Linked DNA regions of Homo sapiens: region 2 is linked to region 1. Evidence: fine-mapped expression QTL. A gene starts in region 1. The other region holds a variant in brackets. All regions are shown on one strand. Distances are between the middles of the regions.

Region 1 (5,230 bases):
GAAGCAAAGAACCCCAGTAGAGTTAAGACCTTTCCTACCACTCTGCTATATGCTTCTGAATTGTGCCTCATAGGCATTTCTTACATGATTTACTTATTGCTCTCTAAAACTAAAATAAACTAATATTTTTTAAAGGTGAATAGGAGGAGAAGTGAGAAAAGTGTATTTTAACAGGGTCAAACTTTTTGTGTATTTTCAGGTGAACTGGGGGATGCCAGATCTCCCTACCTCCCTCTTTCTCTCCCTCCCTCCGGAGATCATTATGGCTGATAACAATAGTTTTTCTCTCCCGGGTAGTGTAGATGACACATTTTTCCTGTAGCTTGTCTTCCTGTAGTGTGCAGGAATTCCTGCACTTTCTGGGTGCCCTTCCTGTTAACTTACATTTCAGATTTCCTCAAAAGGCATTCTACTGCTTTAATATTTGAAAAATGTCAACTCAACCCCAGACAGCTAATATAAACAAGCTGAAAAGCATACCACCTAAAGTTACAACTGTGGAAAACAAAATTTCTTTTTAAGAAATTCTTTCTCGGAATCTCACTGTTGGTAAGGCTGTAGAGCAGTAACCCAGTCCTTCCAGCTTCCAGAGAGTCTGTAATTCCTTTGCCTCTGCTGTGCCTTAAATTAGAGGTCTGTTAAACCGAATTATAGTGATCTAGAAAGTTCGTAAAGGTCCTTGAATTGAACATATTGTTAAATTCTTCAATACTATGAGATTGTATCCACTTTTCACTTTTCCTCCCATTTCTTGGGTTAGAATATTAAAAAAGAAGTTTGGTACTGCAAAAAGTATTTTGGCCATTTGAGAATAGCGTAGCTGAATAAGGCCAATTCCACATTTAAAGTCCAGGCCAAGGCGGCTGGCTCTTTTGCCATTTCTAAAATGATCACCCACTTCTTTCTACCAATAATTTTCCTTTCGGACAAGAACCCCATGTTCATTCCAGATGTACTTTCCAAGCAGAATCCAATTAAGAAAACTCATCTGGGTAAATGGGAATTGATTTGAAGGACCACCAGTACCTGATCCATTGTAAACACATCCATAGGGAAGAGTGCAGTGCTAATATCTCCTTTGGCTTCTCAACTCAAAAACTGGCTCTACTAAGAGGGAGCCACGTTCATAGTGAGCCCAAAAATATGCAAAAAGGAGCCTGATTTAGTTTAGACCCTAAAGTCCAAAGATAAGATCACAGTAAACACCACCCTCTTCATAAACCTTCCTGACTATCCCCCAAATAGATAAATCACTTCCATTTTTAAACTCCAATAGCACCATTTCTCTTCAATACCTGTCCTATTATCTTGTATTATAATGATTTCCTTACATTCTTGTTTTCACCAACCCGAAGGAAAAACTTCATTTTAAATATTTTTGTGTGTCCCTAAATCATGTGCACACATACACACACAATACATACATATACATGCATATATATACACACATACATATGTATATACATGCATATCACAATATATTACACATATATTAAACTGAATTGAATGAATGAGCGAATGTTTACCAAATACAAAGTAACTAAATGCCATCTCTTTAATACATCAAAGCATGGACTGCCTCTTCTGAACTATTATTTCTCTACTCAATAAGGAGATTTTTAGGTTTTCCCCACTTGAGGAACATCTCCACCTGATATGTCAATTCCTAGGTTCTTCAGCACTCTTAACTTTTCAGATTTCCATTCTCCCCTAATACTCAAAGAAAAGCAGAGTGCTACTTTGAATGCTTGAGATTACTACTTCCTTCTTGGGCTGCTGAGATATATGACTCCCATCAGGTAGAATTAAAAAGCGGTGCAACAACTCCCCACACTCCCTCCCAAAAAAGTAGCAAAAAGCTTGTTAGACCCTTTAATTTCACCATGTCTTACTCAAAGAGTGCCCCGGGTAGCCTAATTCAATAGTATCTAACACCTCTCTTCATCATCCCATACTTCTCATATGGCATATGCTTTCTCTATGGTAAAGAAACAATTGTTCTGAAACAAGTGACTTGGGGTCCCAGGGGCACCTGACAGCACCTAGTCTGCTCTTTGATGTCATATCAGGAATTTTTTAAATCCCCTTCCCAGGGTGACATTAAGCCTGCAAAATACAACTGTGTTTAAAAACAAAAATTAAGAAAAGAAAATAAAAGAACATAAAGAAAACAACCATAACGTGAACTTCCAACCTATTACAGCTGACTAAATACACGCAGTTACACACTTAAAATATTTCATTATGCTTGTCAATGAAACAGTGCAGTCCCTTCACACTACTGTAATGCTTAAAAGTACAGTTTTACCCCCAATATTTTCCCCCAAGATGCAAAGCATCCCCCAAATGGGCAGACATAAAACATTAGGTCTTCACTGCTGCTTCTAAATTTTGCGAGCCAATAAGCAATTGGTGTAAAGTGCAAAATCTCAGAAGAGCAAGACTCGTCTGCTTTTTTGTGATATGCTGTTATTCACCCTTCACCTTTACTTCCTTTAAAAATCAAAAGTTACCTAATGTTCAAGGCGATATCAATGGAAATTTAGCTAAATACTGGCACCGCAACGGTCTATTTCCCCCAAAGAATATAAGATTACATTAATTTCCTAGTAGTTTAACTCAAGTTTTACCTTTCATCTTCACCTATAGAGTTTTTAAAAGTTTCTATTCCTGTTGCATACAAAATTACTTACAATATCTGTGCATAGTAAAGAATTTTACAATTATATAAAGCCTTGCACATTTAGACGCTACCAACCTGCTCTGTCTCTCCTGACTGTGCAAAAGGCAAAAAGAGCTCAGTAATCCTAGCAGAAGAATGCAAATAACGTCAATGCACAGCTGAACTGCAAGCCCTGCCTTACAGGAACTCTCTGTGTCTGCAAAAAAAGACACATACTAAACAGGAAATGCAACTGAGCTGTGGAAAACCTCAAACTTAAAAATGCACTCGCCAGGCGAAAATTGCATCCATGCATTCATAAATGCATGCACAACCCTTTGCATTTTTGCAACTAATGCAAACAGCCTCTTACCTTTCGACTGAGACATTTTCCCCTTTCCTTTGATGGGGGAGGGGAGCACAAAAGACTTTGCCTTGCTTCTCTTCTGTAGCTAGTTTTGCAACAAAGATGCAAGCTGCAGGCGTGCAATCTTCATGCAAGTGGAGTTTCTCTTGACCGATGCAGCAGATGGACTTTCAGGGAATCAAGATGGAAATGCACACCTTGCAAAACAGACTGGAAAGTGATTTTTCCCCCAGTTGCAACGTTAGGGAAGGCTGTGCTGCAGCTACATGATGGGCCAGGGCTGGCAGCTAAAAGCTCCAAACTTGGAACTGAGTATCTTAGTGCGCAGACGTCCTTCCTGCGAAGGGCGCGAAGGCCGCTGGGTAATGTAGTTCTCCGGCGGAGTCCACGGGGCTCTGATTTAAGGAAACGTGGTCGCCCCGGTCGCTGAGCGAGATAACTGGGTGCGACAAAGATTGCGTCCAGATAAACAAGTCAGACACACACTCAGTAGAGTGATGGGTGAAAAGCGGCAAGGCCAAGACGGGGCGGCAGTTTTGTTCTCGAAAAGCCTCTGAAACAACAGCTAAAGAATATTAGGTTAGCTAAAGAGCTTTTGGCTTGTCGAGAAGGTCTGTTTGGGAGTTTAGTGTGTTGATTTTGCAGCTCAGCACCTGTTGTGCTGTTCTTGCCTGTAGACGTTTTACCCTCACACCTCCGTTTTTTGTTTGTTTGGGGGTTTTTTTGTTGTTGTTGTTGTTGTTTTTTTCCCGAGAGGGAGTCTCGCTCTGTCGCCCAGGCTGGAGTGCAGTGGCGCGATCTCTGCTCACTGCAACCTCCGCCTCCCGGGTTCAAGCAATTCTCCTGCCTTAGCCTCCCAAGTAGCTGGGATTACAGGTATGCGCCACCACGCCCGGCTAATTTTTAGTAGAGACGGGGTGTCAACATTTAGCCAGGCTGGTCTCGAACTCCTGACCTTATGATCCGCCCACCTCGGCCTCCCAAAGTGCTGGGATTACAGGCGTGAGCCACCGCGCCCGGCCACACCTCCATTTTTAAAAACATTTTTTCTAGTAAGAAAAATGTATGGATGATTGGGTTGGCTGGAGGTAAGGTTACCTTTGCTCTGTGGAGAAGATGCAAAGTTTTATTTTGTCAGAAACAATCCAGGTCAGTTATTTCCAAGGAACCCGAAACTCAGTAGGGGGTAGGTGTGGGGAAGAAGATTGGAGGCTTCTCATTTCTCACAGGGTTACAGAGGAAGTTCTGCTTTTTATACATCAACGCTAACTTTATCAAAATTAAGGTATCTAGATGATTTTTTCTCACCTGGGAGGAGAGTCCCTGGCCTAGGGGGAAAGTGGGTGGAAAATGAATACAGTCGAATATCTTGAATTTATTCATTAAAATTAAAAGATACTTGTTGAGTGTCCAGGATGTGCCAGGCGCCTTTCTAGGGCCCTGGGATGTTCATTCATTCTGTACCGCTCACACATAGTGGGTACACAGCACCCTGATGGAGAACGGCATCACCTTTTTCACAAGGAAGCCAGAGATGCTTAGCACAATTCACTGCAAGGAATGGAGAGGAGTGAGCAGGGCATGGGCAAAAATGAGCTCGGACTTATACTTCATGGAGCAGACAGACTCAGAAATGTTCTTTTAAGACAGAGGGAGGAATTGAGGAATTCAAGGAGGTGTGGACAAAGCACTGTGGCAGAAATAAGGACAACCTTACTCAGAAGCTGCCAAGGAGACCTTGTTGCCTTGTGTGCAGGAGTGGTGAGGGCGGGGGAGATTTACAGGTGAGGACTCCACAGGGCCTTAAAAGGTGGGCTAGAGGTTTGGACTTTATTCTGCAGGTACTTGCGGGGAGGTGAAAGGGTCTTGCAAAGGGGCGTAACTTAATCCAAGCATTGTTTTAAGAAAGTAAATTTGCCCTCAGCAATCAAGGTGGGTTGGAACTGGGAGAGGCTAGAGATAGGTTAGGTCAGTAGTGAAAGGCAAAAAGAGGCACTTTGAAAGAAGATTCAGCTAGATTTGATGATTACTAATGAAAACTATTGGAATTGTATTTAGGATGCTGGAAGCCAGGACCATCTGCATAAGGGATGCATTAGAGGGAAGGAAGCCGTCTTATTTCAGCTGCAAACCAGCAAATCAAATCTTAAATATGCAATAGGTTGTGAGACTAACATTAATTTACTTAAGTTGGTCCCCTT
Region 2 (5,230 bases), 87 kb before region 1:
CACTATAATGGTGATGGCAGACACTTGGTTATAGCTTTTTTTTTTTCTTTTTAGTGTTAGTAAAGGGTGGTCACCCTTATCTTAGTAACCCACTATTTTCTAAATCGATCTGTTAACTACTACAAAGTTAGCAATGGAAGTAGAATAAAAAATGCTTTTCCACTGTTCTGCCCTCCCCTTTTCCCAACCACCTGCTGTAATTTGAAAAACTTAAGAGAGGGATAGAGTAATACTTATTTACATTTTCCCTGTTCCAGAAAGGATTAAGATAACAGATGAGCTTATGCAAGGAAGTTATAACTTCTTCTTGGGCCAAATGGAAAGGTAACTTGATGTTGATCACACCTGGGCTGAAATTACAAGAGAATTTGGCTCGAATACTTTTGTTGATGAGTAAAAAAGAACAGACTGAGAAATGCCAGCTCAGGAAGCAGAACAGAGCAAACAAGGGCCTGGGGTTTTCCTCATGCATGGAGATCCTGTGTCTCTTTGCACTTGGCAGGGGAAACCAAGGGAGAGCTGCATAGAATGGCTGGAAAGAATGCTACCTTCTGCCCAGGCGCGGTGGCTCATGCCTGTAGTCCCAGCACTTTGGGAGGCCGAGACGGGCGAATCACGAGGTCAGGAGATGGAGACCATCCTGGCCGACACGGTGAAATCCTGTCTCTACTAAAAATACAATAAATTAGCCGGGCATGGTGGCAGGCACCTGTAGTCCCAGCTACAGGGGAGGCTGAGGCAGGAGAATGGCGTGAACCTGGGAGGCGGAGCTTGCAGTGAGCTGAGATCACACCACTGCACTCCAGCCTGGGCGACAGTGCAAGACTCTGTCTCAAAAAAAAAAAGAAAAAAAAAGAATCCTACCTCCTTTCCCACCTCTTCTCTACATTGCAGATGAGCACTCAGAGATAACACAAGCCCTGGATATGGCCCTGGATAGATCCTGAAGCTGCAAAGAAACTTAAACCAATTAAAATAACCTCCTTGCAGAAAAATAACATCCAAAGACTTCAGTGACTTGCTCCACATCACAGAGGTCAGCAATGACCCAGTCAGAATCAGAATCCAGGTCTCCTGACACCCAGGTGGGAGTTCTTTCTACTATCCTGCAATAGAAGACGTTTAGAGATGACTGGAGAGGGGGCAGGTGAGACGTACCCGGGATTTTGAGTTTTAAAATACCCAGCTGACATCTGGTTCTTCCACGCATCACGCAACTTCTAGAATCACTTTTCATCTGACTCTCAGTTTTCTCAATTGTAAAATGAGGAAGTAACAACCATACTCACCTCACTGGACTGATATGAGAATCAAAGCAGATAACATATATGAAAAAACATTAAGATACCTTAAGTAGCTGTTAATTAGATTCATTTAGGGAAACAATCAGTACTGTCTCATTTTTTTTAAAGTCATTTAAAAAATTAATGAAGAGAACTGGCCACATCATTATAGCCCACTATAATGTATAATGAAATTTTTCAATTCCTTCAGAATCCAAAATCAGATCAATTCTGCCAAGTTGTATATAGCCAGGAAAAAATATGCTTCGCAGTAATCAGCCTAGAGAAAGCCTTTTAGGACCACCTTCAGAATAAGAGGCTTTCTCAATTCTCTCCTCATTTGGGTTTACTTATGTATTTTATAAGGTTCAAAACTCACCATTCACTTTCCTGCTCTTGGAACTCAAACAGCTGTTAAGGATGTTACTAAATTAGTCAGTTATTGACATCGCATAGAGCTTTCCTATGTACCAGGAACTATGCTAGGTGCTGGACCCAGTTATGAGAATCCAAATAGATATATGGCCTAATTCCAACAATTCCCATCCATGCACCTCAGCCAAACAGACAGGGAATGTTACTTTCGATGAGATTCTTCAGTGAGGAATGAATGACGGATTCAACTTGTTTAGATAACTATACAGATAACTACATACAAATTCCAGTGCAGGTGACAGATAATTCAGGTAATCCCAAAAGGCGACCCTACAGTTCTCTCAACGAAAACAAAAACTAAAGTAACATATATTTTGCCTATGAAAACTGGTCTCCAGTTGTCATTTAAGCAAACCAAAAGCAGAAGTTACTCTTAAATTCCTACATCTTTCTCTTCTTTACCTCTAACTCAGTTCTTACAAGATAGATGTAAAGAGAAATAGCTATTTATTGAGAAAACCCCTTTGGAAAACTTTAATATAGCAAGTAATTAGTAGCAATTCTTAACAGCAATTAATTATTACACCATAACTTAAATCACCAAAACATCTATACAAAGAAACAGTAAAAAAGAGAGAAAGTTTTTAGCACAGAGACCAAAGGAATAAAAGACCAAAATAATAGTAAAGTCTTCCAAGTGGGAGGAGAAGGCCTTTGATTCTCTCCCCAGATCACTGTTACACCCAGCCACCCCCACAGCCCCCCACATCAACATCATTCTTACCCTGAATTTACTGCCTCCTAGTTGAAATTGCCAGCCTCCTGTCTCCAGACTCTAAACCCTTGACTATGTATATAAGTTGGACATCTGCATATCTTAAACCTAATATTTCCAAGTATATCAGCTCCTCAGAACAACAAGAAAAAAAAATAGATCCAGGAGACACAAAACCTAGTTGAATTACAGTGTTAGAAAATACTCTGCCTTCACGTTTACATCAAATAAAATACAAATCACAAGCACACACAGCAACACTCTGCAGTTCGCTTACTTGCCCATCTCTGACAGAGCAGCACAGTAAGAGACCAGCAGAGGCGACTCTGGTGAGGTTTTCGAGGCTGCAAGGAAGACCAGCAGAGGAAAACCTAACAGAAGTCATTCTTCACTTAGCTCCAAAGACCACACTTCGGCAAGGAGAAACAGAACTGAACAGACTCCACCCCCTCCTCAAGTTCGGATTGCAGCAAACCTCTGCAAGCTCATTGTTCCGAGGAAA[T/C]TGCAGCTTCAGGAAGGGAGAAGGGAAGTGGGTCTATGTGGACACCCAGGCGTGACATTAATCATTAACCAGACTTGGAGGAATAAATCTATAAATCTGGACAGTACCATGTTCTGCAGCTTTTCTATAAATGCCTCTTTGATTTCTTAAAAGAAAGAAAAACAATATGTGGTCAGTTTCCAGCTGTGTTTACTTCACAGCAATCTGTTCCCCCAGGAAGGCAGCCAACACCTGACGCTAACATTGAACACTGTTAAAAAAAAAAAAAAAAAAACATGGGAGGGAGCACTATGAATAATAAAGCTAAGTGGCCAACTATGTTCAACAGTCTTTGCCTTTGATATTCTAAAGCAAAGCAGAAAAAATGTCAGAAAAAAAAAAAGGCTTTCTATGATGTCATATGCTAGCAACAAGCCTTCTCGGAAACAGAGAATTCTGTAGATTTCTGCAGATCGCAACAAGCCTCGACTGCTTATTGGCACAGTCTGCAAAGGGTAAGCCTCGTCGGCCTGATTGGGCATATGCAGCACTATATTGCATCAGACCCTGTTACCCGCATGACTGTGTTCTCTGAAAATAGTGTAATCCCACCACACACATATATTTGCAAAATTCATCTGAAACCAAAGCAAAGCTGGGTCATTATAATCCTGGCCTGGAGCAAAATGGCACTGGAAAAAAAAATTTAAAAAGCCTTGCCAATAGTTAGAAAATATTTACCAGGCCACAGAAATGTTCGCTAGCTTTGACTGCACCGAAAATGATGGGGTACACGAGAGGTCTTGCACACACTCTGAGAGGGTAAGCACAAAGCACTCCTCTGATGTTCCTCATTACATAAAACAGAAGATTATGTTCCACTGCCAACCCAAACAGCATGAGAAGCCCACGCGGTCAACAGAAGGTGGCATCGTGAAGATATGCTGATGCCTAAATATTTGTTAGCTTGGCCGAGGGTTGGGGGCACGACTATGAGAGTTTATGATTATTGACACAGCTTCACAAAAGGATGGCAGTGTTTCCAGTGCCAAATTTATTTTAAAAATCTGTTTCCCAATATGAATGGGATTTCCAGCCAAGTAACTGGCAATCTAGAGGCCTTGGCTGCCCTCTCCTTACTACTTGCATCTAGGCTTACGTTCCAAGGGTAGTTGGCAATAAAACCAGCAGTGAAGTATCATTCAGTGTTATTAAATTGCAATCATCATATGCAAAGCAACGAACGAAGCAGGGCAGGGGAAGAGGCATGCAGGAAGAAAGCTGGCTTTGCAACAGCAATGTAAAAGTGAACAGGGACTCTGCCATCCTCCAATCTTCCAAAACCACTGGCTCTTATATACCACTGAGATTCCAAACACTGAAGACAAATCTCTCTGGAATTACAGAAAGTTTAGAGAAGAAAAGCTGAAAACCTCTTTTTTTTTTTCTTTTTTTTTTGAGATGGAATCTTGCTCTGTCACCCAGCCTGGAGTACAGTGGCACAATGTCAGCTCACTGCAACCTCCGCCTCCCGGCTTTGTGTGATTCTCCTGCCTCAGCCTCCTGAGTAGCTGGGATTACAGGTGCCCGCCATCACGCCCAACTAATTGTTGTATTTTTTAGTACAGATGGGGTTTCACCATGTTGGTCAGGCTGGTCTTGAACTCCTGACCTCGTGATCCACCTGCCTCAGCCTCCCAAAGTGCTGGGATTATAGGCGTGAGCCACCATGGCCGGCCTTTTTTTTTTTTTTTTTTTTTTTTTTTGAGACAGAGTCTCACTTTGTCACCCAGGCTGGAGTGCAGTGGTCCTATCTAGGCTCACCGAAACCTCTGCTTCCCACGTTCAAGCAATTCTCATGGCCCTCAGCCTCCCGAGTAGCTGCGACTGGGAATACAGGCACGTGCCACCCCACCCGCCTAATTTTTGTATTTTTAGTAGAGATGGGGTTTCGCCATGTTGACCAGGCTAATCTCAAACTTCTGACCTCAGGTTATCCGCCCGCCTTAGCCTCCCAAAGTGCTGTTACTGGGATTACAGGTGTGAGCCACTGTGCCCAGCTGAAAAGCTCATTTTAAAACCTGCAGTCAGTTTGATTTCAGAGTCAGAATGAATCTCCTAAGACCTTACCTTTGCTCATACTGTTCCTTCTACCTGGAGGGCTCTAGCTGTCTTGCAGACAAGAACTCAACCTTCCAAATTCAAAACCTCCCTCATAGAACCTTCCCAGAGCTTCCTGAACACAATCTAAGGATTACTATCCACACATTCCTGCTTTCACATTCTGGCACCTTACACTCAGCCTGCAACACAATA

The links. PIP is the estimated chance that this variant, and not a neighbour inherited with it, causes the effect.
Region 2: its variant is fine-mapped to the expression of MAP2K6 in whole blood (TOPMed, PIP above 0.99).

What each region holds. Positions count from the first base shown.
Region 1 is chr17:69,412,806-69,418,035 of GRCh38, reverse strand. MAP2K6 (mitogen-activated protein kinase kinase 6) reads right to left here and starts at 3,339. Exons shown (of 12, transcript NM_002758.4): 1 at 3,036-3,339. The coding sequence starts at 3,051.
Region 2 is chr17:69,499,898-69,505,127 of GRCh38, reverse strand. The region is part of intron 1 of MAP2K6 (mitogen-activated protein kinase kinase 6); the gene reads right to left. Among named protein-coding and RNA genes, the nearest start is that of MAP2K6-AS1, 17 kb to the right of the region's middle. RefSeq lists enhancers at 986-1,045, 1,116-1,165. The variant T/C (reference allele first, on the strand shown) is at 2,936.